Regions from separate parts of the Homo sapiens genome. Here region 1 is linked to region 2. The links come from fine-mapping of genetic effects on gene expression. A gene starts in region 2. The other region holds a variant in brackets. All regions are shown on one strand. Distances are between the middles of the regions. Region 1 holds the start of FAH (fumarylacetoacetate hydrolase). Region 2 holds the start of ZFAND6 (zinc finger AN1-type containing 6).

What was found. PIP is the estimated chance that this variant, and not a neighbour inherited with it, causes the effect.
Region 1: its variant is fine-mapped to the expression of ZFAND6 in prostate (GTEx, PIP 0.92).

The regions. Positions count from the first base shown.
Region 1 is chr15:80,139,487-80,155,723 of GRCh38, forward strand. FAH (fumarylacetoacetate hydrolase) reads left to right here and starts at 13,513. Exons shown (of 14, transcript NM_000137.4): 1 at 13,513-13,649. The coding sequence starts at 13,569. RefSeq lists a silencer at 12,942-13,501. The variant C/G (reference allele first, on the strand shown) is at 10,468.
Region 2 is chr15:80,051,834-80,068,070 of GRCh38, forward strand. ZFAND6 (zinc finger AN1-type containing 6) reads left to right here and starts at 7,843. Exons shown (of 7, transcript NM_019006.4): 1 at 7,843-7,976. RefSeq lists silencers at 7,521-7,849, 7,546-8,415 and an enhancer at 15,301-15,350.

The sequences.
Region 1 (16,237 bases), 88 kb after region 2:
AAACATTAAGGGATAATAGGAATTCAGTAAATAGATGTTAGTGGATAGGAAGACAGTATCAAAAAATGTCATCTGTCCCTCAGTAGGCATAGATTCAAGGTAATCCCAATCAAAATTCCACTTGATTTTTTTTCATGGAGCTTGTTTAGTTGATTGTAAAAGTAAAAGTTAAAAAGAGCAAAAGGCTAGAACATTTCAGAAGAGAGCAGGGAGACAGGGACTTGTCCTAAATGTCAGGACTCACTGTGAAGCCTTGTTAGTTAAAATAGCATGTTATTAGCTGATAGGGACAGACAGATACCTGAATTGAATAGATTGCCCAGAGAACTCTGCACGGACTGAACTTTGGTGTAAGAGAGAGGTGGCACATTGCATTCAGGAAAGGAGACTTCGATAATTAGAGCTAGAAGAATTGGTTTTCTGTATGAAAAAGGAAAAAACCCGTATGTTATGCCATAGGAAAAAAGGACTTAAAACAAAATTTGAAAACTCTCAGAAGAAAGATGGCTGCCTGTTAGGTCTTAGGATAGAGAGACTTCTTGGCCAGGCACAGTGGCTAACGTCGGTAATCCCATCACTTGGAGGCCGAGGCGGGCAGATCACAAGACCTGGCCAACATGGTGAAACCTCGTCTCTACTAAGAAATACAAAAATTAGCCAGGCGCAGTGGCACATGCCTGTAATCCCTACTACTAGGGAGGCTGAGGCAGGAAAATCACTTGAATCCGGAGGCAGAGGTTGCAGTGAGCTAAGATCGCACCACTGCACTCCAGCCTGGGTGACAGAGCAAGACTCCATCTCAAAAAATAAAAATAAAAAAAATAAGACACAAAGCATACTATAAATGTATTATTAATGAATTTATCTATTAAAAGGATATTTTATTCTCAAACACATTAAAGTATCTTCAAAGAATGTGAAAAGACAAAGGTGGGAGAAGTTCCACTGCAAATGAAGACTACCCATTCAAGCAACAAAAAATTAATCTGTCAGTATATAGTGTTGCCAAATTTCTGTGTGTTCTTGCATTGCTGGTGTTAGTGCAGTGGTTCAATCCTTGAGAAAGTTTGATACTGTCTTTTAAAGTGGAACTTTTACATACCCAATAGTCCAGAAATTGCACTCCCAAGTGCATACCTAGGAAAAACTTACACATAGATAAATGGGGGACCGCAGCCAGGAGCGGTGGCTCAAGCCTGTAATCCCAGCACTTTGGGAGGCCAAGGTGGATGGATCATGAGGTCAGGAGTTCGAGACCAGCATGGCCAAAACGGTGAAACCCCATTTCTACTAAAAATACAAAAATTAGCCAGGCACGGTGGCAGGTGCCTGTAATCCCAGCTACTGGGGAGGCTGAGGCAGGAGAATCTCGTGAACCCAAGAGGTGGAGATTGCAGTGAGCCAAGATCGCACCACTGCACTCTAGCCTGGGCAATAGAGTGAGATTCCATCTCAGAAAAAAAAAAAAGACAAATGGGGGACCACTACACGAAGTTTTATAGTGCTGTTTACAGAAGCAAAAGCCCAGAAACAAGTCTTCAAATCCCCAGTGAAGAAGAGTGGATGAATATAATGTGATATATTCATACACTGGAATAATACACTGTAACCAAAACTGCTGATCCATAGTGACACAACAAAATAGAAGCATATTATGCAAAAAAGTCTTCCAGTATAGTAAGCTTTAGAAATACAGGAAGAAGTGCAGTATAGTAAGCAAAACTAGTCTCAAAATATGCAACATGCTCACCTATAAACACTTTAAAATACATTCGCATGTAATAGGTTCCCCCCCCTCCCCCGAGACGGAGCCTTGTTCTGTTGCCCAGGCTGGAGTGCAGTGGCGCGATCTCGGCTCACTGCAAGCTCTGCCTCCCGGGTTCACGCCATTCTCCTGCCACAGCCTCCGGAGTAGCTGGGACTACAGGCGCCTGCCACCACGCCCGGAGACTTTTTTTTTTTTCGTATTTTTAGTGGAGACAGGGTTTCAACATGTTAGCCAGGATGGTCTGGATCTCCTGACCTTGAGATCTGCCCGCCTCGGCCTCCCAAAGTGCTGGGATTACAGGCATGAGCCACCGCGCCCGGCCGATTTTTTTTTTTTTTAGTAAAACGGAGTTTTGCTCTTGTTGCCCAGGCTGGAGTGCAATGGCACAATCTCAGCTCACGGCAACCTCCGCCTCCTGGGTTCAAGCAATTTCTCCTGCCTCAGCCTCCCGAGTAGCTGGGATTATAGGCATCTGCCACCACGCCCAGCTAATTTTGTGTTTTTAGTAGAGACGGTGTTTCACCATGTTGGTCAGGCTGGTCTCGAACTCCCGACCTCAGGTGATCTGCCCTCCTCGGTCTCCCAAAGTGCTGGAATTACAGGCGTGAGTCACCGCGCCCAGCCAATAGATTTTATGTGAAAAGAAAGCAGGATAATGATGATGAAAAAATTCAGAACAATGCCCTTAGATGAGAGGTGGCAAGGGATGCGCTAGTAAGTGGTACTATATGGTCAAAGCTCCAGCTTTCTTGGGGTTAGTAGAGTCAGGATGCTTATATTAGGAAACTAAAAGAGGCCATGTATGAACCAATGCTGAGAGTGTCTTGAACCAGGGATTATGATTAATCCAATATTCTGTACCGGAAGTCCAAAGTATCAAAAGCAGAAAGTTAATTATAAAGCTGTTTTGATGATCACATTTTAGAACTTGAAGGTTATGCAAGGAAAGGTGTTGAATCAGCCTCAGCATTCAATTTGTATTTCTTTTTAAAATTGTCACACATAAAAAACAAACATTCACAGTCTTCCAGTTTCACTACACCTAAATACACTGTTAATCAAGAGTTTTCTCGTACTTCAGTCTTCCATACTAATTTTTCTGGGATGTTTGTGCTCAAGTCTGGTGCAAAGTGTCCTCTCCCCTAGTTATCCTACAATGCTAACTTGTACTGCACAGTGCAGTCTTGAAATCATTCCTTTACTTCAAGCACAACTCAAAAGCCGTGTATTTTCTAATGTGAAAACAGTTTTTACTAAACTAACAATGGCTATACTTCCCCTTTCTCATAGTTTCCAGAACATCTTACCAAGACCAGCTCGGTCATGGAGACCCTAACCCAGTGGCGCTAGAGGAATTAAGACAAAGACACAGAGTGCAGAGTGGGAATCAGGGGGCTGACAGCCTTCAGAGCTGAGAACCCTAAACAGAGTTTGACCTGCATATTTATTGACAGCAAGCCAGTGATGAGAATTATTTCTATAGATTATAGATTAGCTAAAAGCCTTCCTTATGGGAAACAAAGGGACAGGCTCTGGCTTGTTATCCGCAGCTGGAACATGTCCTTAAGGCATAGATCGCTCATGCTATTGTTTGTGGTTTAGGTACGCCTTGAGCGGTTTTCTGCCCTGGGTGGGCCAGGTGTTCCTTGCCCTCATTCCAGTAAACCAGCAACCTCCAGCGTGGGTGTCATAGCCATCACAAGCATGTCACAGTGCTGTAGAGATTTGTTTATGGCCAGTTTCTCATGGCCTGTTTATGGCCAGATTTGGGGGACCTGTTCCCAGCAACATCTAAACAGATATTATTGGGAATTTAGGAAAGGATACTTTGTTGTGGTGTCTTTTCAGAGACTGGCTTCCTGGCCATTTTCCCTTCTTTTTATTAACACATAAGCATCAAGATTAATTCAGAAGGCCAGTAGAATAGAAAGTCAGAATGTGGAGATGGGAGACAGAATGTAACCAATGAAAGATGTTAACATCTGGAATGAAATCAAAGAATCTACGTAAAGACTCTTGAAACTTATAAGCAGTTATAGTAAGATTGCAGGATAAAAGGTTAATACAAAAAAAAAGGTGAATATATAATACAAAAGCCAATTGCTTTGCTATATACCAGCAATGAAAAATTTAAATTTAAAATTAAAAACACCATTCACACCAGGTGCAGTGGCTCACGACTGTAATCCCTGCACTTTGGGAGGCCGAGGCAGGTGGATCACGAGATCAAGAGATCAAGACCATCCTGGCCAAGATGGTGAAACCCTGTCTCTTCTAAAAATACAAAAAATCAGCTGGGCGTGGTGGCATGTGTGCCTATAGTCCCAGCTACTTGGGAGGCTGTGGCAAAAGAATCACTTGAATCCAGGAGGTGGAGGTTGCAGTGAGCCGAGATCATGCCACTGCACTCCAGCCTGGCGACAGAATGAGACTCCATCTCAAAAAAACAAAAAACAAACAAACAAAAACACCATTCACATTAGCCCCAACAAGAGGGAATGCTTAGGTATAAATCTAATAAAATATGACAAGATCTATGTGAAGAAGATGACAAAACTAATCAAGGAAATCAAAGATCATTTCAATAAATAGCTTTCATTTCAGTGCTAGGAAGACTCAATATTGTCAGTTCTTCCCACGTTAGTCTATAAGCTCAATGTGATTTCAGTCAAAATCCTAGCATGTTATTTTGTGGATAGCAACAAAGTAATTCTAAAGTTTATGTGGAGGGGCAAAGGCCCAAAATGGCCAATGCGATACTGAAGAACAAAGACTGATGCTACCCAACTTAAACACCTACTATAAAGCTCCCATAATAAAGACTGGTATTTGCAGAATATATCAGAGAGCCCAGAAATAAACCAATACAAATATAGTCAACTGATCTTTGACAAAGAAGAGAAGACAATTCATGGAGAAAGTCTTTTTCATAGGAATACTTTTTCAAGCAGTAGTGATCAGCTGTACATTTACATGCAAAAAAAGTCAATCTAGACACCTTGAACCTTTCACAAAAGTTAACTCAAAATTTATCATAGACATAAATGTAAAACACAAAAATGTAAAACTTAGAATATAAGAAATTCAAGGTTTGGTTTCGATTTTTCTAAGTAAAACACTAAAAGCATAACTTGGGAAAGAAAAATTATTGATGACTTGGACTCTGTTAAAGTTAAAAACTGCTCTGCAGAAGCTGCTGTTAAGAAAATTAAAAGACAAGCCACAGACTTGGAAAAAATTAGCAAAACACATAAAGGGCTTTCATTTAACATATACAAAAAACTCTTAAAAGCTTAATTGTATGAAAACAGTCCAACCTAAAAATGGGCAAAATATCTGAATAGATATCAAAGAAGATACACTGATAGCAATTAAAAAAAAAAAAGCCTGCAGCCTCAGCTACTCAGGAGGCTGAGGTAGGAGAGTCACTTGAGGCCAGGAGTTTGAGTTTGGTCTGGGCAACATAGTGAGACCCCATTTCTAAAAATTTTTTTTAATGATTTAATAAAGTATACTTGGTTAAAAAGCAAAAGTGTCCACACAAAAACTTGCACACTGACATTTTAGCAGCTTTATCCTTAATTGCCAAAAATTGGGAGCAACCAAGATGTCCTTCAATAGGTGAACAAACAAACTGTGGAACATTTATACAGTGAAACAGTATTCAACAAAAATAGAAAGGAACTTTCAGGGCAGGAAAAGACATAGAAGAATCTTAATGCATATCGCTAAGTGAAAGAACCCAATCTTAAAAGCTACATACTATATGATTCCAATTATATGACATTCTGGAAAAGTCAAGACTACAGAGACAGTAAAGAGATAAGTGGCTGCCAGCGGTCCAGGGGATGAATAGAAGTAGCAGAAGGGATTTTTGGAAATTAAGAAAACAATCTCATTTACAATAGCTACCAAAAAACCCCCAACCAAACAAAACACTTGGGAATAAATTTAACCAAGGAGGTGAAGGACCTGTACACTGATAACTAGAAAACATCAATGAAAGAAATTGAAGAAAACAGAAATAAATGAAAAGATATGGCCAGGCGCGGTGGCTCAAGCCTGTAATTCCAGCACTTTGGGAGGCCGAGGCAGACAGATCACCTGAGTTGGGAGTTCGAAACCACCCTGCCAACATGGAGAAACCCTGTCTCTACTAAAAATACAAAATTAGCCAGGCGTGGTGGCGCATGCCTGTAATCCCAGCTACTCTGGAGGCTGAGGCAGGAGAATCGCTTGAACCTGGGAGGTGGAGGTTGCGGTGAGCAAAGATCGCGCCACTGCACTCCAGCTTGGACAGACAACAAGAGCGAAACTCCGTCTCAAAAAAAAAAAAAACAACATAAAAGATATCCCATGTTCATAGATTGGAAGACTTAATATTGTTAAAATGTCCATACTACCCAAAGCAATCTACAAATTCAATGGAATCCCTGTCAAAATTGTAACGATATTTTTCACAGAAACAAACAAACAAATCCTAAAACATGTATGGAACTGCAAAAGACGCTGAATAGCTAAAGCACTCTTGAGCAAAAAGAACAAAGCTGGAGGCATCACACTATCTGACTTCAACATCTACTACAAAGCAGCCAGATGTGGTGGCTCATGCCTGTAATTCCAGCACTTCGGGAGGCTGAGGCAGGAGGATCACTTGAGCCCAGGAGTTTGAGACCAGCCTACACAACATAGCTAGACTCCATCTCTACATTTTTTTTTTAAATATTGGCCAGGCATGGTGGCAGATGCCTATAGTCCCAGCTATGCAGAAGACTAAGGTGGGAGGATCACTTGAGCCACTGGGAGGTTGAGGCTGCAGTGAGCCGTGATCATATCACTGAATTCCAGCCAGAGAACAGAGCAAAACCCTGTCTCTAAAGCAAAGCAAAACAAAACAAAATGAATCTACTATATAGCTATAGTAATCAAAACAACATGGTGCTGGCATAATAACAGACATATTGAACAGAATAGAGAGCCCAGGAATAAATCCACAGATTTACAGCCAGTTGATTTTTCACAAAAGTGCTGAGAATACGTGATGGGGAAAGGACAGTCTCTTCAATAAATGATGTTGGGAAAATTGGATATCCACATGTGGAAGAATGAAATTAGACCCTTATCTCACACCATATATAAAAATCAACTCAAAATGGATTAAAAACGTAAACTTAAGAAATGAAACTGTAAAACTAGAAGAAAATGGGAAAAGCTCCATGTCATTGGTCTGGGCAATGATTTTTTGGATATGAACCCAAAAGCACAGGCAACAAAAGCAAATACAGACAGATGCGATTATATCAGGCTAAAAAGCTTCTGTATAGCCAAGGAAACAATCGACAAGAAAAAACCTAGGAAGTGGGAGAAAACATTTGCAAACCACACATCTGATATGGAATTAGAATCTAAAATAAATAATGAAGTCAAACAACTCAATAGCAAGAAAACAAGTAACCTAATTCTTAAAAAATGAGTAATGGATATGAATAGACATTTCCCAAAAGACATAAAAATGGCCAACAGGTATGTGAAAAAATGCTCAACATCATTATCAGAAAAATGCAAAATAAAACCACGATGAGATATCATCTCACACCTGTTAGAATGGCTATTATCAAAAAAACAAAAGACAGCAAGTATTGCAGAGGCTGTGGAAAACAGGGAACCCTTGTACTTTGTTGGTGGGAATGTAAATTAGTACCGCCATTATGGACAACATAGGGGTTCCTCAAAAAATTAAAACTAGCGCCACCATATAATTCAGCAATCCCTCTGCTAAGTATATATCCAAAGGATATGAAATCAGTATGTCATAGAGATACCTGCACCTCCATGTTCATTGTAGCATTATTCACAATAGCCAAGATATGAAATCAAACTGAGTGTCCATCAGCAGATGAATGGATAAACAAAAGGTTTGTATACACAATGGAATACTATTCAGCCATAAAAAGAAATCCTGTCATTTATGACAACATGGATGAAGCTGGAAGACATTATATTAAATGAAATAAGCCAGATGCAGAACAACAAATACTGCATGATCTCACTTACATGTGGAATCCCAGAAAAAGTTGAAGTCAGAAGTAGAATAGAATGATGGTTACCAGGGGGTAAGGGCTGGGAGGTTGGGGAGATATTGGTTAAAGCCCACAAAATTTCAGATAGGAGGAATAAGTTCAAGAGATCTATTGGAAAATATGCTGACTATAATTAATAACCGTATTTTTTTTTTTTTTAGTCCAACTGAGTCTTGCTCTGTTGCCCAGGCTGGAGTGCGGTGGCGCAATCTCAGCTCACTGCAACCTCCACCTCCCGGGTTCAAGTGATTCTCCTGCCTCAGCCTCCCGAGTAGCTGGGACTACAGGCACGTGCCACCACACCCAGCTAATCTTTGTATTTTTAGTAGAGAGGGGGTTTCACCGTGTTAGCAAGGATGGTCTCGATCTCCTGACTTTGTGATCCACCCGCCTTGGCCTCCCAAAGTGCTGGGATTACAGGCGTGAGCCACCACGCCTGGCCTTATTATATTCTTGAAAATTGCCAAGAGAGTAGATTTCAAATGTTCTCAGGACAAAAAAAATGAAAAGTGAGGTAATGTTTATGTTAAGTAGCTCAACTTAGCCATTGTGCAATGTGTACCTATTTCAGAATGACATGTTTTACATGATAAATATGTATAATTTTTATTTGTCAGCTAAAAAAGTAAAAAAGAATTCTCCAGGTGTTGTCCCAGACAGCCGCTGAGATGTGGAACACATCTGACAACAACAATCAGAATCCTGGTGAGGAGGGAGGGCAGGACAGAATGCTCTCACACAGGATGTTCTTAGACAGAGTCAATCTACTTCTCATGTTGCATGTTATACTTTTATGTACATTAGTGATGGGGAGGTAAGGAAGAGGAAAACAGGATTGCTGACATTTATTGAGAACTTTCTGTGTGTCCCACAATATGCTGAGAGTTTTTGCAGGGGTTTTCTTATTTGATCTTCTAAACAACCTTACAAGGCAGGTATCGTTTTTATTATTTCATTTTTCCAATGCATGAAATTAAGATTTGGTGAGGTACAGTAACCTAAACCCAAACTCAATATGAACGTTCTAGAAAGAGATTTCAAATCTTTCTTATTTGAAACCTTAACATATATATTCTTACAGCTGGGTGCAGGGGCTCACGCCTGTAATCCCAGCAACTTGGGAGGCTGAGGTGGGCAGATCACGAGGTCAGGAGTTCAAGACGAGCCTGACCAACATGGTGAAACCCCATCTCTACCAAAAATACAAAAATTAGCCAGGTGTGGTGGTGTGAGCCTGTAATCCCAGCTAGTTGGGAGGCTGAGGCAGGAGAATCACTTGAACCTGGGAGGTGGAGGTTGCCGTGAACCGAGATCGTGCTACTGCACTCCAGCCTGGGCAACAGAGCGAGACTTTGTCTCAAAACAAAACAAAACAAAACAAAACAAAACATAACAAAAAACAAACCAACAACAACAACAACAGACATATATATTCTGTTACCACATACTGTTTCCTTTTGTTCAACATCTAGGGAAAGGGCCACAAGGAAAAATCATGCCTAACCAACTTTAGTGTGTGTGTGTGTGTGTGTGTGTGTGTGTGTGTGTGTGTGACAGAGAGAGAGAGAGAGAGAGAGAAAGAGAGAGCGAAAGAGAGACAGGGAAATTTTAGTGTGGATTTATTGTTGACAAACTAAACAATGTTTGCAGAGAGAGGCACTGAGAATGATCTATTCAGCTGTGCCAAACAGGTTGAATACAGAGGTTGTAACTTATGTGTCAACATTCCTCTGTATTTCTGGGAGCAGAGTGGGATCCACAGCTATAGCTCAAAAAGGCACCGAACATTTGGATGGGAAAAAAGGGATAATTCAGATGGGAAAACTATTGAATATGTATTTAGTTATAAGAAAACAAAACAAAATTAGAAGTATTTTGTTGAAATAACAGTGAGGGAGAGTCTAAAAAGTGGCTCCTGCTTTGATAATGGTAACAGAGAACTCATTATATGGTACACATTATTAAGTCAGATGGCAATGACATGTTCTTTATTTAAGGTGCTGCTTGTTATTTGTGAGTCTTGCAAATCCAGCTTAAATCCAAAATGGATTTGAGGTAGTATTCCATCAGAACATAGACACAATAGTACCTGAAACAGACTAAAGACAGAATTAAAGAGGGCAGGAAGAAGAAAATTTATATTGCAGAAAACCTAGCCCTGGTTGAGCTGGTTCACCTAGGACTTCATCCAATCCCCTTCTCCCCACCCTACAACATGCACTTGCACTTGAATTACTTACGTTCAGTTCCAAGATCCTCTAAATTTTGAACTCCTTTGAGAGGACAGAATGTCATGTATATTTGCACATGACATATATTCTTGATACTAAAATGTACTGGACACATGCCAAACCCATGATGCCCACTACAAAATGTGTACCATAAACATCACTGAGCTCAGACCTGAAAAAGAGAGGACACTTACTTTGCTAAAGTGCTTGGCCTTTGACATAGTTTCCTCTTTTTCTTGACGACCATGCAGCAGTGCTGAATGTTGCAAAAAAGGCCACCCCATCCTGCTTCCCAGTGCAGGCAGCGTCCACACCTTGCTTATCTGAATGGCAACTGCCAGCTTCTCAGAGCCGTTGCAAGACATTAGTGTCCTGGATCTGGAAAGTT[C/G]TCTCTCAGCTCTCTTGTAAAGGAGTGAGGGACATGCTTTGTGTGAATGAGGGCTGCAGTGCAGTGTGTTGCTTTTTAGCATCAGAGGGAGGCATTAAATATGGTGCTACAGAGACCCAAACCAGCCTTCATTGCTGGAGATGCTGAAACTCACTGCGAGTCCTGAAAGTGTTCATACTCTTTGAGTCAGGAATCTTCCTTAGATAATTGTCAAGGAAAAGGAAAACATTCTGTGCATGCACCTCTTCATTGAACCGTTATTATTACCATCTAAAACATTGCGACTTCCTTAGCTAATGACAATGATCATAATAAAGCCTATTGGGCCTCAAGGAAAAATATTCAAGAGAATAAGGTAGGGAAAGACTGAAAAATTGCATCTATGTAAAGTTTATAAGGATGGAAAAGCCATGTGCATACAAATGGAATGAAAAAAAAACATGAAAATGAGAAGACTACATTGGTGGGATTATGGGCAATCTCTTTGTTTTAAAATTCTTTTTAAATAATTGTTGTGATATACGTGGCCAACACATTCTCTTCCAAAAAATGAGAAAGAAAAAATATAGTATACTTGCAAGTTATTTCAAATGCTGTTTTCCAAATAGAGAACAGCTTTGGCGTTTTCAGACACTGTGTATAATTAGTGGGTTGGTTAAGTCTATTTTAAAACTATGAAATCTTACTCCCTCTTTAGCCATCTCATCCCCACACCCTTTCCTACACATACATCTGCCCCATGTCCTTTCCCTAAAATACTTTGGTTTTCTTTCTCCAAGGGTTTTATCATTTAGGCTTTTGTTAACTTGTATGTATTCAGTAGAAGCTCCTGGCCTAGCATCCCCCACACAACACATGCTCCATAAAAACAGGAATTAAAGATGTGAGTTGCTGGTGTATCCCCATGGCCTGGCATAGGGCATGGGCTTATTAGTTATTGCTTCATTTCCTTTTGGTCAACAGTTTTATATTAATGACATGTATTTATGGAGAACCTATTCTGTGCCAGGTGTTTTGCTGGGTATTGACAGAGTTGCACATGGAATAAGAAAGCTCGTGGTTTTAATGGGAAGGGGCAGGGCAACTACAGAACGTGGAAATAATTCATTGCGTTGCAGCTGAGGACTAGCTTGAATTAGGCAGGTATCAAGTGCTCCCTGGAATGCCTCTTTATAAGGCCACCAAGTTGGGATACTCTCCTCTTCTTTTCCTCTTTCAGGAACCTACCAGAACAAATCAGACCACCTTCATTCCCTCCCCAGGGCTGACTTAAAAGAACTGAAGCCAGTCCTTGGCAGAGCCACTCAGGGCAGGAGATGAGAGCCAAGAGGCTGTGCCCAGATTACACTCCTTACTGGGTGATGATCACTGGTCACGCCTGGTGGACAGGCACCAGAGTGATCTCAGGGGCTAGGAAGGGGGGCTCAACAGCGGGCCCTGCTTGCCGTACTCGCTCCTCTCAAGCCGTCTGGTTTCAAGCCCACTTAGCTCACATTATCCTGCCATCTTCCAGCCTCTTCTCCCTAAGCTGAAATGCGGAGCAGCCTCCCTAACTCAGCAGTCACTGTGTCACATTCCTCAAGGATCTTCAGGGAACCCTTGCCCAGACTATCGTCTACTTTTCTAGATTTCAGCCGGCATCCTGGCTGTTTAAAAGTGTACCTGAATCATTCACACCAACAATAACACAACGACACACTCTCCGGTGTGTTCCAAGTGTCCTGGCTGTGGCATGGTCTCAAAAAACTGCAGCTGACTGCACATGAGTGATTAGATAACACCTTGAACCCACCCTAAGATAGTCTGCCTTTCCCTTCTTTCCTGTCTTCCTTCTTTTCTTTCTCCCTCTCTCTCTTCTCCTATTTCTCTTTTATCTTTCCTTTCCTTTATCCCCCTCCCCTCCTTTCCTCTTTTTCCCTCCCTTCTCTCTCTTTCCACACACACATAACCTGTATATGCCAGGCACTATTCTAGGTGCTTCACAAATATTAATTCATTCCATTCTTATATCAACTTTGTGAAGTAGGAACTATTATCATCAACATTATACAGAGAAGGAAGCTGAGGTAGAGAAAGTTTAAGTAACTTGTCCAAGGTTGAGCATCTTGTCAACGTCATTTTACTACTGGCATGTGAAACAGGTGAGTTATATTTTTTAGAATATTAATTCTCATTAATTGAAGCCTTCCAAACAGGCCTAACTGTCCCCTTCTCTGACATACAAGTGGAAGTGTCATAGCTGGACGGAGCATCATGGTATGAAGGCAGAAAGGACGCGACTGGGTGTTCTTCTGAAGCTCAGGGAGCAGCTCTTGGGGAGAAAGTGTTTCCAGGAAGCGGACAAGAGTTCTGTTGAGCTGAAGAGCAGGGCAGCAGCCGGGGCGAGCGAGGCTGGAGTCATGCAGGGCAGAGCCTTAAATGCTAAGCTGGGGTTTGCTCTCGGTAGGACCAGCTAGCTGCCCCGAGCGGGGGCTGGAACCAGATCTCCCCCACGTGGACTCGCGGACAGGGCGGGGATCAGGACGGGGGCGGGGCCAGGGGAGGGGCGGGGCTCGGGGAGTGAGGCAAGACTGGAGGGCCTGGGACTCTCGGGTACCCGGGCCAGGGGAGGGGCGGGGCTCAGGGAGGGAGGGAGAGACTGGATGACCTGGGGCTTGCAAGGCGGGGCGAGGGGAGGGGCGGGGCGAGGGGAGGGGCGGGGCTCAGGGAGGGAGGGTGAGACTGTGGAGGACCTGGGGCTCGCGGGGTCGGGGCAAGGGGAGGGGCGGGGCTCAGGGAGGGAGGAGAGACTGGAGGACCTGAGGCCCACGGGGGCGGGGCCAGGGGCGGGGCGGGGCTCTGGAAGGGCGGGCGAGACTGTGGAGGACCTGGAGCTGGCGGGGGTCAGGGTAGGGGGGAGGGGCAGGGCTCGGGGTTCGGGGGCGGGGTGTTCACGGTGAGACCAAAAGTCAGGTAGGAGCCTCCGGGGTCCCTGCTGTGTCACCCGGACAGGCCGTGGGGGCGGGCAGGGGGGCGGGGCCGGGCCTGACCACAGCGGCCGAGTTCAGTCCTGCTCTCCGCACGCCACCTTAGGCCCGCAGCCGTGCCGGGTGCTCTTCAGCATGTCCTTCATCCCGGTGGCCGAGGATTCCGACTTCCCCATCCACAACCTGCCCTACGGCGTCTTCTCGACCAGAGGCGACGTGAGCAGTGGGGCTTTGGCGTCCGGGCGCGGGGAGGGAGTGGAGTGGAGTGGAGTGGAGTGGAGTGGAGTGGAGTGGAATGGAGTGGAATGAGGGGCGGGATGGAGGCTTGTGCCATTTTTCTCTTAAGATTCGTTCCGTGAGAGTGCCTATGGGCTCGAGTCCCGCCTCGTAACTTTCTAGCTGTGCACGTTGTTTAACTTTTCAGCCTCATTGTCCGCAGGTTTGCTGAGAATTAAATGCAAAATGAAATGAATCGTGTCACTCTCCCAGACAAGCAGAGCAAGCAGGATTCTGTTACCGGAAGCTGCAGCACACAGGCATGCTGCCTACTCCGAGGTGGTTGCGGTGTGTTTCTCTCGCCCAAGAGGCCAGGTCAGGGCTGGTGGTTCATCTCGCTGGATAGCCCCTAACCCTAGAACCCGGGAAATGATAACCCGGTATGCGTAGCAGGTCAGAGGGGCACGCGCGTTTCTTGGCTTAGAGTTGTGAGATCTAAGATGGCAAGTGTCTCTGCCTATAGCTGAAATTCTTTCAGCTCCTGGTGTGGGCTCCCTGGCATTCCCCTACTGATCAGAAGAAAGAGGGCAGGGAAACAAACTTTGACTAAGTCAGTGTAGTCTGATTGGTAGAAAGAAGTATTTGAAAACTGGGGGTTTATCAGCAAATAGATAATAAGAGGTTCCCTAGGTTGGAAAAGCAGATTCCCTTGGATTTGTTGATGATATTTTTGGCTTAGATTTCTGCTCCCAACTTTAAAGGTAAACTCCTGATTCATCTCTGTAAGCCATAGAACCCCAGAATCAGGAAATGTTTGCTAAACGAGGGGCCTGGCAGTTGGCTTCTTCTTGGAAAGTGGGGTTCCCTCCTTCCCCCATGGCTTGTCATTGGATGCAAGTGGCTGGCCTTTTGTGGGCCTGTCTGCGGTAAGTGCTTTGGTCTAGAAGAGTCAACTTGTGGTTTCACATCTGGCCGGGCTGACCAGATGTTGCAAGGATACAGAAAGTGGACACTCAATCCCCTGGAGGACACAATCTGAGGCACATTAAATCTTAACTTGTGATGGCCAACAACCTTTCTGCAGACAGAGCCCTCCCTCTGCCCTCCTCAAACACTTTGCCCTCGGCAGATGTGTCCTCCCTCACCTTTCCTGGGAGCACAAATCCATTAGACAGAAACATTTGTGAGAGGCAGGCACACCCCAGTAGGGAGCTCTGACTTGCTTTCTCAGGGGAATCGAATTAATATCCGTTAGAGTGTGGCTAGGTGTTTTCAGACACCATGTCCCGCTGTTTCAACATCAGAATGTGCAGGGCAGCCACTACAGATGTCTGGAAGAGAGAGCCCCATTCCGCTGTCCTCTGATACAGTGCTGGGGGTGGAGAGTTGGCCCTTTGGCCTTCCAGCTGAACAAGCCTCTTCTGAAGCTTTCTCTGCAGGCATTGGACATTCCAACCGTGATGGCTGCCTTGCCAGGCAAGACTAGTTGCCAAGGCAAAACCTCCCTTCCCCCATGTCAGCAGTCAGCCTTTCCTAATTTGAGTGGAATAACAATGAATCCTGCCATCACTTTATTCATTTTTTTTTATTCAGCGAATGCTTATGAACCCCAACTCTGGTCCAGATTTTGCCTGGGCTCCGAGTTGGCATCAAAGACACAGGAGACGCCTTCCTTCCATTTCTGGTTGATGGACTAGTAAGGTGTACAGGGGTGCTCTCTGTGAAGGTAGGGGTGGTGGCCTCTGAGAACGGGGTTGTAGTAGTGTGGAGCTGGTTTTGCCGGGTGCCTTGTTAAAGTCCCCGTGGTCTGGCTGTGCTGCTGCCTCCTGGCCTCTGCTTTCTCCAGCCACATTGGCTGCCTTTGAGTCTCTGAGATGTGCTAAGAGCAGCTTCCTGCCTTCAGGCCTTAGCACATGTTGTTCCTTCTGCCTGGAATACTCGTCCTTCTGCTCTCTATATGCTTGGCCCCTTCTCACTCTTTGGGACTCAGCTTAAATGTCACCTCCTAAGCACCCTCTCTGAATGAGCTCCCCGCTGCGGCCCAGCCTTGGTTATCTCTCACCACACCCTGTGTTTCCTTTTGCTTCTGGAGAGAAGGAACCACGTCACTGTTCCCAGGGCCTCAGCAGCCTTTGTGTAATGCTGGTACTGAGAAGATGCTCTCTAAATCTTTGTGGCATGAATAGCGTCTACCCTGTGTCTGTTCTTGTGGTGAGAGATTTACAGATATTAATTAAATTCTCACAATAAACCTACTGTGAAGTTATTGTCCCCATTCTACAGATGAGGAAACTGAGGTCCAGAGAGGCAAAGCATCATGCTCCAGATCTCACAGCCAGTAAGAGGCAGATATGGGGTTGATCCCCACATCTGTCAGCCTCCCAATCTGTAAGGTCCAGCCCTACGGGGCTTAGCGGGTTTTCTCCCTGTGTGCGGAAACGAGAGATTGTAAGAAATAAAGACACAAGACAAAGAGATAAAGAGAGAACAGCTGGGCCCGGGGCACTGCTACCACTGAGACACAGAGACCGGTAGTGGCCCCGAATGGCTGGGCACACTGATATTTATTGCACACAAGACAAGGGGGG
Region 2 (16,237 bases):
AGATACTGTGAAGATGAAAATATTTCTCCCTGCTCCCCCAAATTGTTTTTGGCAAATGCAATTCCAATTCAAATCTTGGCAGGATATTTCTTAAACAACTGATTAAATTATTCTAGAGTTAACCTAGAGGCATAAACAGATCAGATTTTCAAACAAAATTCAGAAAAAGAGCAATGGATAGTAAAAAGACAAGCTCTAGTAGACACTAAAGCATATTATATAGCAATGAGATTAAAATGTCATGGGTCTTGAATAAAAACACGCTGTTGAAGCAAAAATAGCAAGAATAGTGGAAAAACTCAGATCTAGAATTTATTATGTATAAAAAGTTGACATATGCTAAAGAAGGCCTCACACAAAACCATGGGGAAAAGGAGAGTTGATATATTTGTTAGAACAATTGATTAGAGATGGCCGGGTGCAGTGGCCTGTAATCCCAGCACTTTGGGAGGCCGAGATGGGTGCATCATGAGGTAAAGAGATCAAGACCAGCCTTGCCAACATGGCGAAACCCTGTCTCTACTAAAAATATAAAAATTAGCTGGGCGTGGTAGCACGTGCCTGTAGTCCCAGCTACTTGGGAGACTGAGGCACGAGAATTGCTTGAACACAGGAGGCCAAGGTTGTGGTGAGCCGAAACTGCACCACTGCACTCAAGCCTGGGTCACAGAGAGAGGCTTTGTCTCAAAATAAAACAAAAGCAAAAGAACAATTGGTTAGAGACTTGGAAATGGAACAATTTACATGCTTATAATATACCAATTTTTTTTTTAATCAAACTTCAGAAAAACAAGTTTCTAGTCTAACTAGGGAAGAGGCAAACAAATCTCATTCTTTCTTTTCCTTTTCTTTCTTTTTTTTTTTTTGAGACAGAGTCTTGCTCTATTACCCAGGCTGGAGTATAGAGGCACAATCACAGCTCGCTGTAACCTAAACTCCTGAGGTCAAGTGATCTTTCTAACTCAGCTTCCTGAGTAAGGCATGTGCTGCCACGCCTGGCTAATTTTTTTTTTAACTTTTAGTAGAGAGGATATCTTGCTATGTTGCCTAGGCTGGACTGACAAATTTCAGTTTAACAAGGGAACTACTATTGCAGAAGGAAGAATAAAGTGTGTGAAACACAGAAGAGGGGCGTCCTAATTATGGCTAGAGGAATCAAGACAGCCTTGACCAATGAGCAGGCATTTATACTGGGTTTTGAGGGATGAGTGGGAGTTTGATAGGGATAAGAGAGAATACCCGTACAAGGATGAGGTCATAAAAAGGCCCAGCATCCTGAATGTAATGAATAGAAGGAGGTGGGCAGAAGCATGTCCATGAGTTGAGGGAGCTGCTTGCCTGAACGCCTACTACAAGTGTAGTACTCTTTCAACAATTTTAAGACACCGTGTCAACCTGATGGTAGTTTAGACCAGCAGTCCTCAAAGTGTGATCCATGAACCTCTGGAGGCCCTTGAGATCCTTTTAGAGGGTCTGCAAGGTCAAAATTATTTTCATTGTAATGTTAGGTCATTATTTCTCTTTGTCATGAGTGTACAGTGGAGTTTTCTAGAGGCTACCTGATGTGTGATATTGTAACCGATAAAATGTAGAGGCCCGGTGCGGTGGCTTATGCCTGTCATCTCAGCACTTTGGGAGGCTGAGGTAGGCGGATCACGAGGTCTAGAGATTGACACCATCCTGGCTAACACGGTGAAACCCTGTCTCTACTAAAAATACAAAAAATTAGCCGGGCGTGGTGGTACATGCCTGTAGTCCCGGCTACTTGGGAGGCTGAGGCAGGAGAATCGCTTGAACCCTGGAGGCGGAGGTTGCAGTGAGCCGAGGTCGCGCCACTGCACTCCAGCCTGGGCAACAGAGCAAGACTTCGTGTAAAAAAAAAAAATGTAGAGGAAAATAGGAGACTCAATCAAGCAGTCTTGTGCTGAGCCAAACATTAAGGAGGGCCTGCGAAACCAAAAGTTTGAGAACTTTGATTTAGACTCTGATGAAAAGCTATTAGAGGAAACACTATTAACAGAAGTCAAGTCCATGAGAAGTTTTTCTAAAAGTAGCTCCTTCCCCATTAACCAGAGCTTCAAATTCTGTTTTGGTCCTATCCTTCCCTGGGGTTATGTTAGAAGTGGGTGTGCCCTTGGAGATAGTTTTGAAAAGGTAAATTGGAAAAGTGGATTAAAACCATCAATTCTTTGCAAGCTCCCTGTTTCAAAAGATAGAATTTATCTCCCTACCCCTTGAATCTAGGTCAGTCTTATATCATTCTTTCATACAATATAGCAGAAGTGTCATCATACGACTTCCAAGGAAGACCAGGCTCATGCTCCTGTATTCCTGAAAGTGCTGTGCTCTGAAAGACTATGAGGGAAGAGAGGCCCCAGCTAAACAGCCATCACAGCTCATCTGTCACCTACAGCTTCTCCATGAGAGAGTCCAGGCAACACTAGCAGCAGGATTGCCCAGTCCACCCACAGAATCAAGAGAGATAATAAATTGTTGTTTTAAGCCACTAGGTTTGGGGTGTTTCTTACGGAGCAACAGACACTTGATAGAGTTGGGGACTAACTGCCTGGCCTCAAATGCAGAAGTATGTATTTTATCTCCTGGACCAGGGTTTCTCAACATGACATGATTGACATTTGAGGCTGATAATTCTTTTTTTGTTTGTTTTGAGACGGAGTCTCACTCTCTCGCCCAGGCTGGAGTGCAGTGGTGCGATCTCGGCTCACTGCAAGCTCCGCCTCCCGGGTTCACGCCATTCTCCTGCCTCAGCCTCCCGAGTAGCTGGGACTACAGGCGCCCACCACCACGCCCGGCTAATTTTTTTTTTTTTTTTTTTTTTTTTTGTATTTTTAGTAGAGATGGGTTTCACCGTGTTAGCCAGGATGGTCTCAATCTCCTGACCTCACGATCTGCCCGCCCGCCTCGGCCTCCCAAAGTGCTGGGATTACAGGCATTAAGCCACCGCGCCTGGCCGAGGCTGGTAATTCTTTGTTGAGGGGGGCTGCCCTGTGCATTACAGGATGCTTAGCAGCATTCCTGCTGCCACTAGATGACAGTGACAGCTCCACCCAGTTGTGACAACCAAAAATGTCTGCAGACATTGCCAAATGTCCTGTGGGGGACAAAATCCCACCCCCTCCTTTAGAACCATTGTCCTAGGCCAAACCATTCTGAGAATAAGAATCACCTGGGGGGTTATTAAAACTAGATTTCCAGACTCCTCCCCTAGAGATTCTTATTTATTGTGTCCAGATTATGACCTGCAATGTGAATTTTTTAAATGCTCAAGGTATTCTTATCAGAGGAATGTGAGAACTGCTACAGCAGAGACGAGGAACCAAAAGAGGTCTGACCTGCTCATTTTGTGTTTCAGGAAGATCCTTCTGGAAGCGGTTGGAAGATAAATCGGGTAGGATGTGGGGGGATGTAGAAAAGAGAATAGAATTGGAGGCTATTACTTAAATTCAGGTGAGAAATAACAAGGGAGTTGTATAGGGCAGTGGTGGTGGGGGTGCATTCCAAAGATATTTCTAAGGCAGAATCAGTGAAATTCATGACGAATTGGATATTGGGGAGAGGAGGGCTTAAGGAAAAAAAAATGAGGCCAGGTGCGGTGGCTCACGCCTGTAATCCCAGCACTTCGGGCGGCCGAGACGAGCGGATCATGAGGTCAAGAGATTGAGACCAGCCTGGCCAACATGGTGAAGCCCCGTCTCTACTAAAAATACAAAAATTAGCTGAGTGTGGTGGCAGGCGCCTGTAGTCCCAGCTACTCAGGAGGCTGAGGCAGGAGAATCACTTGAACCTGGGAGGCGGAGGTTGCAGTGAGCCAAGATTGCACCACTGCACTCCAGCTTGGCGACAGAGAGAGACTCCATCACAAAAAAAAAAAAGAAAAAAAAGAGCAAAAATTAAAGAACTTTTATACTTCAAATGATATCATCAAGCAAGTGAAAAGACAATATGCAAAATGGGAGAAAATATTTGCAAGTTACATATCTGAAAAGGGACTTGTATCTAGAACATGTAAGAACTCTTATGACCAACAATAAAAAGACAAACAACCCAATTAAAAAATGGGCAAAGATCTGAATAGACATTACTTCAAAGAAGATACCCAAATGGCCAATAAACACATGAAAAGATGCTCAACATCATTAGCCATTAGGGCAATGCAAAGCAAAACCACAGTGATACACCACTTCATACTCACTAGGGTAGTTATAATCAAGAAGACTGATTATAACAAATGTTGGCAAAGATGTGGAGAAACTGAAACTCTCACTCATTGCTGGTGGTTATGTAAAATGGTGTAGTCTCTATGGAAAACAGTCTGGCAGTTCCTCAAATGGCTAAACAGAGTTACCATATGACGCAGTGTCTACCTACTCCTAGGTAGATACCCAAGACAAATAAAAACAGGCTGGGCGTGGTACACCTGTAATCTCAGCACTTTGAGAGGCCAAGCTGGGAGGACTGCTTAAGCCCAGGAGTTTGAGACCAGCCTGGGCAACATAGTGAAACCCCATCTCTACAAAAAATAAAAAAAATTAGCTGGGCATGGTGGTGCATACCCGTAGTCCCAGCTACTTGGGAGGCTGAGGTGGGAGGATGGTTTGAGTCCAGTAGTTGAGGTGTCAGTGAGCTATGTTCATGCTACCACACCCTCACCAGGGTGACAGAGTGAGACCTCATCTGTTAAAAAAAAAAGTCCCTATAAGAACTTGGATAAAAATGTGAACAGGAGCACTATTCACATAATGGGCAAAAAGTGGACAACAACCCAAATGTCTATAAATTAATGAATAAATGTGTTATATTAAATATTAATACAGTGAAATATTCAGCAATAAAAGGAAATAAAGTGCTGATACATACTACAACACGATGAACTTTGAAAACCTTATGCTAAGTGAAAGTAGCCAGTCTCAAAAGACCACATATTATATGACTACATATTTATGAAATGTCCAAAACAGGCAAAACTAGCCAGGCATGGTAGTTTGCACCCATAGACCCAGCTACTCAGGAGGCTGAGGCCAAAGGATCACTTGCAAAACTTAAGGGACACACAGTAGCTTAATGGTTGCCTAGGGGTGGAGGTGGGCCATGGATTGGGGGAAAGGGGAATGTGACTGCTAATAGGTACAAGGTTGTTTTTTTGTTTTTTGTTTTTTTTTGAGATGGAGTCTTGCTCTGTCACCCAGGCTGGAGTGCAGTGGCGTGATCTCGGCTCATTGCCACCTCCGCCTGCCGGGTTCAAGTGATTCTCCTGCCTCAGCCTCCCAAGCAGCCGGGACTACAGGTGTGCACCACCAAGGCTGGCTAATTTTTGTATTTTTAGTAGAGACAGGGTTTCACTGTGTTGACCAGTCTGTTCTCTAACACCTGACCTCAAGTGATCCACCTGCCTCGGCCTCCCAAAACCCTGGTATTTACAGGCATGAGCCACTGCACCCTGCCAAGGTTTCTTTATAGGGTGACAAAATGTTCTGAAACTGATTTGTGGTGATAACTGCACCACTGTGAATATACTAAAAACCACTGAATTGTATAATTTCTTTCATTTTTCTTTTTGTTTTTTCTTTAATAGGAGACAGAGTCTTGCTATGTTGCCCAGGCTGGAGTGCAATGGCCATGATCCCATTACTAATCAGCACAGGAGTTTTGACCTGCTCTGTTTTGGACCTGGGCAGAGTCCTCTTTCTTAGGCAACTTGATGGTGCCCCCCACCCTCTGTGGACACCAGTGGGTACAGTGCACTACTGCCCAGAACTCCTGGACTCGAGCAATTCTCCCAGCTCACCCTCCTGAGTAGCTGGGACCACCGGCATGTGTCACCGCGCCCAGCAAATTGTATTCTTTAAAAATGGGTAAGTTGTAATGATATGTGTGTTAAATCTCAATAAAGCTTGAGTTTCTAGCTTTAATAACTGGAAACATGGTGTCACCATTAGCCAAAATTGGGACTACAGGAGGAAGAATGTGTTTGGGGGAAAATAAGCCTTGGACATATTGAATGGCTGTGATAAGCACACAGTGAATGTCCTGCTCTGGAACACAGGAAAGAAGATGGGGCTGGAAATAATAATGCATACACAATCATTTATTGAGCATCTGTTACATACCAGGTGCTGTGAATATGTTGTTTATGTACACTGACCGGTAGGTTGCGTATGTATACTGTTTATTGTTTCTGCTCCCTCTCTTCCCCTGTGTAAGTCAATGAGAGAAGGGCCTTCATCTTTCTTAATGCTGTCTCCAGCACCTACAGCACAGGCTGGCAGAGAGTCGGCATATAGCATTTACTGGGTGAATAGAAATGCAGTATCTTTTAACCCTCATAACAATCCTTTGTGGTAGGTTTTCGTTCCCATTTCACACAATTTTCTTAAGAGCACAAAGCTAGTAAGTGACAGTGGTCTGTCTGCATTCCACGTCACAATGCAATACTATAATCTCTCAATCTCCCAGAACGAATCTGGAACAAAGGAAAGCAGTAAAGGTCATGTAAACCCAATTTCTGCAAATTCATAATAACTGCATATGAAAATCCAACTGGGTTAGGTGCTGGAGTTAATACAACGATAAACTGGACAAGAATCGGAAGAAAAATACATTTAAGACAAAATCCGTAAGACTTGACGCATAACCTTGCTAGTTCAAGAAGCTCTTTCACACATATTATGTTATTTAACCCCCACAAATAGCCTAACAAGTAGGTTTTATTACCATTCCAATCAGGCTTTTGTCCTCCACTTAAACTGTACTCCCCAAGGTGACTTCTGTGTTGCTAAATGCTCAACAGGTACTCACTTCAGGCACAACATTTAAGGGAGCACCAAAAAACTAAGTGATCAAGATGAATAACATTTTTATTTTTTAAAATTAAAATTAATGCAAAAAAAAAATCCATGAATAACAAAATACCAACATTTAAAATAAAGAGGATTCTCAGGACTGGGCTCGCCTACCTGGATGCCCTAACGGAACTCCTCATTCACAATAGGATTGAATGACCTCGAACTAAAGTGTCACGTACTTCCTGCTCGTGATGCTCGTGAGCCCGAACGAAGGCTGAAAAACTTCAGGGGGAGCCATTCTGCCTATCACCCCTAGTTCCAGCGCAGCAGCCCAGCGTGCACCACGCAGGTGGGAACTGACCCCGTGCTTTTGGAACAGGCTGGAACTGGGGGTGCTTGTGCCTGTGCATGTATGTATTGCACACGTGTGCATGCACGCTTCTCGTCTTGCTTCTATTTCCAAGTCCCAGTTCAGGACAGGGCAGAGAACTGCTTTCCAGTATGCGCCCTGAGCTCGGACTTTGCGCTTGCAGACTGAGGCGCCGGCCTGCATGGGAAGACAGAAGCTCAGAATTCCTTCCTGCACAAGTGGCAGGTGGAGTGCAACTCTTTTTGGTGCCTCAGTCCAAGACAGGGACACGCCATTCCCTGCGAGGTGGCAAAGGTACCTGAACCTACATAACCAAGCCCTTAAAGTCTCCGCGGCACCTCTTAATCGCCTTCCCGTAGCTATTGGAGGTAGAGAAACCGCGGCGGGAAGCGCCCCAGAGAGGGCAGTGGAGCAAGGGACACTGGAGGTGCAGAAGGCGGAGGAGCATCTCCTTTCGCTCCGCCCCGCCTCTTTTCCTGCCTCCGGCCAATTGCCGTGCGCTCCGAGCCTTGACCCCGCCTCTCCCCGCCTCCTCCGGCCTGCGGCCCCGCCCGCGCCGGTAATAATTAGCGGGCGGGCGGGGCCCGCGCGTCAGCCGCGGGAGCCGGCCAATCCAGTGGCTCTCCTCCGCGGTCGCGTCATAGGCCGAACAACCAAACAGAAAAGTTTAATAAACAGCGGACGGAGGGGCCGGCGGTGGCGGAGCCGGAGCAAGCAGGGGTTCGGCGGCATTACCTGTACCCATTCACCGGCGGCTACCGGCGGCGGCGCGCAGCGTGTCAGGCGGAGAGACCCGCCGCCAGGTGAGGAGCGCGGCCCGCGGGGCCCGGCTTGCCCGGCGCTGCCCCTCCCCCGCCTGCTCCCTTCCCCCACCCGGCTGCAGCTAGGCGAGGCCCGCCCCCGGCCCCTCCCGGCGCCCGAGAGCCGGAAGCGGAGGGCGGCCGGCCGGCGCAGCAGGTGGTGGGCCCGCGGGGGCCGCGGGCGAGAGGGCGAGGACTCCCGGCTCCGGGGGTGGGGGCCGGAGATCGGCGGGTTCACCTCAGACGGCGCGCGGGCGCCCGCGGCCGGGGGCCGCTTCCTGTCAGGGTGGTCGCGCTGGGGTCGGGAGCCTCAGTTCTTCAGGGCCGCGGAGGCCGCGACGCGCGCCGCCCCGAGCGGGTTGCGAGCGGTTGGCTGGCGGGGGTCGGAAGGGCCCCGGGCACACTGGGGCGCGTCAGTTCCCCGCCTCCTCCGAGTCTCAGGTCCTCTTCGGGATGTTTTTCCACCTGCGGCGTTTTTCAGAAACCAGCCGGAGGCAGCCCGGTGTCTCCAACTCCTGACTGGCACCGGGAAGGGAATTGGTCTCTTTTTTTCCTGCTTGGGTTTAGCTTGCTTAGGATTCTAAATTTTTTGTCTGCTTTTTTGAAATAGTTATATTTAAGTTTTAGCTACCTAAAAAAGTATGAAAGAATATTGTGTTTGAAATCTTTTTAACTTGGTTTTTAAGTCACGTGCTAACTATCCTACACAGTTGGGACGCTATGATTTACCTTCACATCTCGGAAGTTGTAACCAGTTGTGAGGAAGTTAGGACCTTGGGGTTACCTAAAGATAATTTATATTAAGTTGTTGGGCCATAAAAACTGGGCAGAATTGGCCACGCGCGGTGACTCAACGCCTGTAATCCCAGCACTTTGGGAGGCCGACGCGGACTAATCACGAGGTCAGGAGATCGAGACCATCCTGGCCAACATGGTGAAACCCTGTCTTTACTAAAAATACAAAAATTAGCTGGGTGTGGTGGCGGGCGCCGGTAGTCCCAGCTACTGGGAGGCTGAGGCAGGAGCATCGCTTGAACCCGGGAGGCGGAGGTTGCAGTGAACCAAGATCGCGCTACTGCACTCCAGCCTGGCGACAGAGGGAGACTCCGTCTCAAAAAAAAGCCGGGCAGAATTAATGATTTTGAAGCTCCGAGAAACAGGATTAAATTCCTCTTTCAAACCGAAATCGGAATTTGATTTTTTAAAAGTGTAAAATACCATAAACTTTTAAGGTTAGTTGTTCGGTAACCATGTCACCAATTTTAAGGCACTTTCTGAGTTGTGTATAGTTTCTCCAGAGCCCTAGGGGAAATGTTTTGCAAAATATGCACGTTTAGCTTTCCAAAACAAGTTGTCTTTTTTATTTTTACTTTTTTACGTTTTAAAATGTGTTTAAAGGGAGACATCACAAATGTGCAGGAGAAAATACAGGGGTCGGTGGATTTATTATCTTGTAGTGATAACTTTTTGGGTGTATGCATATGTCAGAACTTACACGTTTTACACTTCAAATATGTGCAGTTTATTGTCAACTATATGTCAGTAACGTTTTTAAGAAGTAACCAAAATATATTTAATACTACCAAAAAAAAACACGGTAAAGTATAAGCAGATAAAAACATCATAAATCCTTGATGACTCCCCCCAAACCCAAAACTGGAACATTACTAAAACTTGCATTTGTCTATGAGTTTCTTATCTGTGCAGTGGATTTTGTGTATGTCACTTCCTTGACTTTTTGAAAAATAGTTTTATCATATATGTTTGTATGCCGAAACTGTGTGGCATTTAATTTGTTTTTCTTTTGAGCTTTATAAAAATAGTATGTGGCTGTAGTTTATTTCATTGCTTTATGATATGTTAATCTGCCATAACTTATGGGCACTTCGACCGTGTTTTTATTGTTTTTTATTTTGTTTTGTTATAAGCAGTCTTGCTCTGTGAACATTTCTTGTTTCCGGCTCTTGGTACACAAGTACAAGAATTTCTCTAGAGTAAATACTTAATGTGGATTGCATTAGACGGTATTAGGTAATCAGGACTAGAATAGATTGAATTACTTAGAAATAAGATGAATGAAAAACATTAGGATTCTCTATTATGTTTAAATAGAAGATTCATAGCCGTAGTGATTGAACTAGTTCAACCTAGTTGAACATTTGCATGAAAACCCAAAATTCCTGTTAACCTATGTGTAATGACTCTCTTACTTTGAAGTCACATTGTAAAAAGTCTGGCACTGTTTGGTATCTCCTTTTCAATGCAAAAATAGTATAGTAGAAAAAACGCTGGATTGTATGTAAAATAAATTATCCTTTCTGCTGTTCCTCTCCTCCCCTCTAATCTCTAGCAAATTACTTAAAAATTTCTCTTGTGCCTTAGCATACTCATGTAAAAGAAACTTGTCCTAAGCTTATCCTTCCACTTTTGCACAGACTTTAATTAAGGAAAACACCTGTCAAATGTCACACCCTTTAAGGGAAAGCATTAGGACCAAGGTGTTATTCTGTGGAATTAAATTTTGTATCCTTTGGAACATTTTTGGAAAAGTTGTGTGGTGGTTCAGGATTTGTTAACTCCATATTTAAATATGTTTTAGATTAGAGAATGCCCACAAGGTGTGTTTCCCGAGGATCTGTTTCATTATGCTAACAGGAACACAGCGACAAATTAGGGAATAGTATCTCCTTACTATCCTGAAGATAGGTGTGTTTTTATGTGTTTCATGTTTCATTCATGTATGTAAGTGTGAATTTACATGTAATTTTGAATAACCTTTTTGTTTGAAGGCATGGGAGTAGAGATGGTTTCATTTTTTCTATATGTAGCTTGCAGACAAATATCAGGATGCTTTGTTTTGGTAGGGCTGTATTCTGCTTTTAAAAACCTTATTTTTTATTTAATTATAAGGACAATGTGTATATGGGGTTTTCCCCCTCAAACTTGAGAAAGAATAGAAAGTTACTAAGAAAAGCCACCTATAACACCATGATAGATAACTATTATTAACATTTTGTCAGGTATACCCCTGGTCTTTATGTGTGTATTCTTAATATCCTAAACTATTAAGAGTCCATTCTAAACACTCTCAGCCTGGCTCTTTCTTAAGAACTTACCGAAATGTAATCTGCCTCACCATCTTATTTCATATAAGATGATAATAGAAGTCATCTGTTACCATTGCTTCAACTTTTCTACTCTTCTGCTTCATTTAAATGTGTAAATTTGTAAATTACAGTATCTTACTCTCTGACTCAAAACCTCCCAGTAGCTTTTCAATATACCAAATAAAATTGAAACCTCTTACTGTGGCTTATATACCTCAGACCAGCAAAGTCCACTAGAAATACAACGTTAGTCACAAATGGGAGCTACATTAAGTAATTTAAAATTTTCTGGTAGCCACATTATGAAAAAAAGAGAAACTGGTGAAAATACGTTTTATGTAACCCAAAAACTATTATTTCAACATGTAATCAGTATAAGAAATTGTTGATGGGATAGTTGTCTTTTTTTAGACTGTCTTTATAATTTGGTGTGTATTTTCCACTTAAAGTACATCTCAATTCAGACTAGCTACATTTCTTTTTTTGTATTTTTTTTGAGACAGAGTCTTGCTCTGTCTCCCAGGCTGGAGTGCAACGGTGCGATCTCAGCTCACCGCAACCTCTGTCTCCTAGGTTGAAGTGATTCTTGTTCCTCAGCCTCCCGAGTAGCTGAGACTACAGACATGCACCACCACGCCCAGCTAATTTTTTTTTTTTTTTTTGAGACGGAATCTTACTCTGTTATACAGGCTAGAGTGCAGTGGCACAATCTCGGCTCACAGCAACCTGGGTTCAAGCGATTCTCCTGCCTCAGCCTCTCCCCAGTAGCTGGGACTACAGGTGCATGCCACTACACCCAGCTAATTTTTGTATTTTTAGTAGAGAGGGGGTTTCAGCATGTTGGCCAGCCTGGTCTCAAACTCCTGACCTCAGGTGATCCACCTGCCTAGGCCTCCCAAAATGCTAGGGTTACAGGTGTGAGCCACTGCACCCGGCCTAAATTTTTATGTTTTTAGTAGAGACCGCGTTTCACCATGTTGGCCAGGCTGGTCTTGAACTCCTGGCCTCAAATGATCTGCCTGCCTTGGCCTCCCAAAGTGCTGGGATTACAGGCGTGAGCCACCATGTCTGACCCAGACTGGCCACATTTCAAGTGCTCGGTAGCCACATATGACTAGTGGTTACCCACATGGACAGTTCCATCTTATAAAAGTACTATAACCTAGTTATCTGTTGGGTGTAACTTAAGTTTATTATTTTTTTCTTATTATTATAAGTAGTGTGATAAATATAAGAGCTACTACTATGTATTTGTCATTGTTTCTTTCGGATCTAGTCTGTCTTACAATCACTGAATCAAAGCATATGAACATTTCTTAAAGTCTTTTCATAAATATTGCCAAATTTTGTCCTTAAAAGTTTGACTAACATCAAACTTTAATATCAAATTTGACTAAAAATATGACAGAATACACATTTCTTGTATATCTTTACCAGCATTATCTGTCTATCCATCTACCCTCCATCTTTCCTTCCCTTTCTATAGGAATCATCATATATTTCTTTAATTAATTATGATGGTAAATAAACCTGGATATTGGACATCTTCTAGTTTATCTTTTGCCCATTTTGGCTGGTGTTTTATATTTGTGATACCCTTTTAAACTTTTTATATTTTTAGGATTTAGGATAGCAACTCTGCTATATACTGCAAATATACATATACACACAAATATATATACACATGTATACATACACACACACACACACACACACGTATGTTTGGGTTTTTTAAAATGTTTTTTGAGACACGGTCTTGCTCTATCACCCAGGATAGAGGGCAGTGGTGCAGTCATGGTTCACTGAGGCCTCTACTTCCTGGGCTGAAGTGATTATCCCGCCTCAGCCTCCTGTGTAACTGGGATTACAGGCGTTCCCCACCATGCCTGGCAATTTTTTGTGGAGATGGGGTTTTACCATGTTGCCCAGAATGGTTTCAAACTCCTGGGCTCAAGCAATTTACCTGCCTTGGCCTCCCTAAGTGCTGGGATTACAGGTATGAGCCACTGGGCCTGGCATGCAAATATTTTTCCTGGCTCTTCATTTACCTAACAGTGTTGTCTTTTCTCTTGCTCTCTCTCTCTCCCCCTTTTTTTTTTTTTTTTTTTTAACAAAACAAAAAAACAGGCAAGGGTTTTTACTTTTTAAGAAAATTAGGTTAATACTTTCTTTTATGGCTTCTACTTTGCTTTTATATTTAAAGGCTTCTCCTACCCAGTTAAGTTTTCTTCTAGTTCTTTTACGGTTTCATATTTCACATCTGTCTTTTTCTGTTCATCTGGGATTTATTTTGACATATGTGAAGTGAAATAACCTCCCTTATTTTTCCTTAAAAATTTTGGCCCCACTAAAAAAAAAAACAACTTGTTGCCTTGAAATAAAGCTGCCTTTATCATATGTTAAATGCACATCTTCTTGGTTCTTTTTAGGTTTTATTGAAATATCAATGATTTGGTACCAGTGTACACTTGTATACATGGGGCATGGTATTTTCATTTTGTAAACAAGTGTGTTTCTGTTATTGTTTAAGTCTCCCCCCCATCCCCCTTTTTTGGTTGTTGCTTTGTTAGTCCTCAGATTTTTTAGTTTATTCTTTTGGGGCTTCAAATTAGTTTTGGTTTTGATTTTTTTTTTTTTTTTTTTTTTTTTGGAGACAGAGTCTTACTCTGTTGCCCAGGCTGGAGTGTGATGGCATGATCTTGGCTCACTGCAGCCTTTGTCTCCAGGTTCAAGTGATTCTCATGCCTCAGCCTTCTGAGTAGTTGGGATTACAGGGGTGTGCCACCACACCTGGCTAATTTTTGTGTTTTTAGTAGAGATAGGGTTTCATCGTGTTGGCCAAGCTGGTCTCGAACCCCTGACCTCAGGTGATCTACCCACCTCGGCCTCCCAAAGTGCTGGGATTACAGGCGTGACCCACTGTGCCTGGCCAGTTTTGAATTTTTTAACTTAAAAAAATTGCAACTTTTATAATATTTTATGTTTTATAATGAAAAAATGTAATCCTATTGAATGTTCCTCTGAGCATAGCTTTAGCTATATTACTTAAATTTTGATGAGTAATATTTTTATGTTTATATATTTAAAAACCCCTGCAGTTGCAGTTTTTATTTTTTCAACAAGTATTTAAGCACCTGCTCCATCTAGACATTCTGCCAAGTGCTGAGGACACAACTATGTACAAGACAAGGTCTCTTGCCTTCATCCAGTTACAGTCTGTCAATATAGACAAACCAACGAATAAAGAATTTTCAGATTTCGACAAGTGTCTAGGAAGTAAATAAATAATAGAAGGTGCTAATTGGATGATCTGAGACTGTCTCTCTGAGGATGTCATGTTTAAGTTGATTGGTGGTACCAAGGTGTGTATGGGAGTTTCTTTAGCTTTCCCAATCTATCGAAACATAAAAAAAAAAAAAAACGGAGTCTCACTCTGTTGCCCAGGCTGGAGTGCAGTGGTGTGGTCTTGGCTCGCTGCAACCTCTGCCTCCTGGGTTCAAGCAATTCTCCTGCCTCAGCCTCCTGAGTAGCTGAGATTACAGGCATGCGCCACCATGCCCAGCTAATTTTTGTATTTTTAGTAGAGATGGGGTTTCACCACGGTGGCCAGGCTGGTCACAAATTCCTGACCTCAGGTGATCCACCCGCCTCAGCCTCCCAAAGTGCTGGGATTACAGGCGTGAGCCACCACGCCCAGCCGAAATGACTAAGTTTTTTTGGGAAAATATTTTGTGAAAATTGCTTTGCAGGCCTGGCTGAGATCACTTGATGTCAAGAGTTCAAGACCAGCCTGGCCAACGTGGCGAAACCTCATCTCTGTTGAAAATACCAAAATTAGCTGGGCGTGGTGGCCGGTAGCTGTAATCCCAGCTACTCGGGAGGCTGAGGCAGGAGAATCACTTGAAACTTAGAGGCGGAGGTTGCAGTGAGCCGAGACTGCACCACTACACTCTAGCCTGGGCGACACAGTGAGACTCCATCTCCCAAAAAAAAAAAAAAAAAATTGCAAACAGTTTGAAGCCTCTTCCCCATCTTCCAGCTGGATTGCTGCTCCAAAGCTTGTCCTGTGTAGAAAATTTGGAACTTTGATTCTGAGTTCTAAAATCAAGAAGTTGAAGGTAGTTTCCCATGTGAAGAGAACTGCTGGCACAAATGGTACATATGCAAAGTGCTTGACTTGACTTTGAATTTGACAGAAGATTAGAATGACTGGTGTTTACTGAGGGAGGACAGTGGGACAAGCTTTGTTTCAGGACTTGTTTGGGAGACTTTTATTTTTTATTTCCAAATGGTAGGGCTGCTTCCACCCCTCCTGCCTTCCTATGGAGTTTTGATTTTGTAATCCAAATCAGTCTCCTACAAATAGCATATATTATTTTACCTCTTGTTACTTTTCTTCATTATTTCTACTGTTTTCAGTTTTCTCTACTCAAGACCTTTGCATATGCTTTTGTTTTGCTTAGTTGTGATTTCCTTGAGGAATCCTTCCTTGATGCCACAAAATAGGTTAGGTCTTTCTCTTGGCTTCATGGGCTCATTTTATATTGGGCTTTTCTTTCATAAACATTTGTAACAACTCCAGTTCATTAAGTTTGTGTGAATTGTTTTAGCATCTATTTCTTCTTCCAGAACCATAGTCTGGTAGCTACCATCCACTTGTGGCTATTTAAATAAATTTAAATTTAATTTAATATTAAAAATTCAGTTCCTCATTTGTATTAGTCACATTCTAGGTGCTCACTCAGTGGCCTTATGTGGCTAGTGGCGATTGTGTTGGACAGCAGAGAGACAGTCTTCTGCAATAATAGATACTTATCTTAATTTATAGTCCTGTGGCTAATGGCTACCATATTTTATTTAAATAGTCACATCTGACTATTGAGATATGGCAAGTCTGAACTGATGTATTAAGTTTGAAATAGGAACTTGATTTCTAGTACCAAACAATGAAAATATCTCAATTTTTAAAATATTACATATTGAAGTAGTGATATTTTACATGTATTGTGTTAAAATATACTATTACTGTTAATTTTATTTCTTAATTAAAAAAATTTTTTTTTCTTGAGACGGAATCTTACTCTGTTGCCCAGGCTGGAGTGCAGTGGCACAATCTCGGCTCACTGCAACCTCTGCCTCCTGGGTTCAAGTGATTCT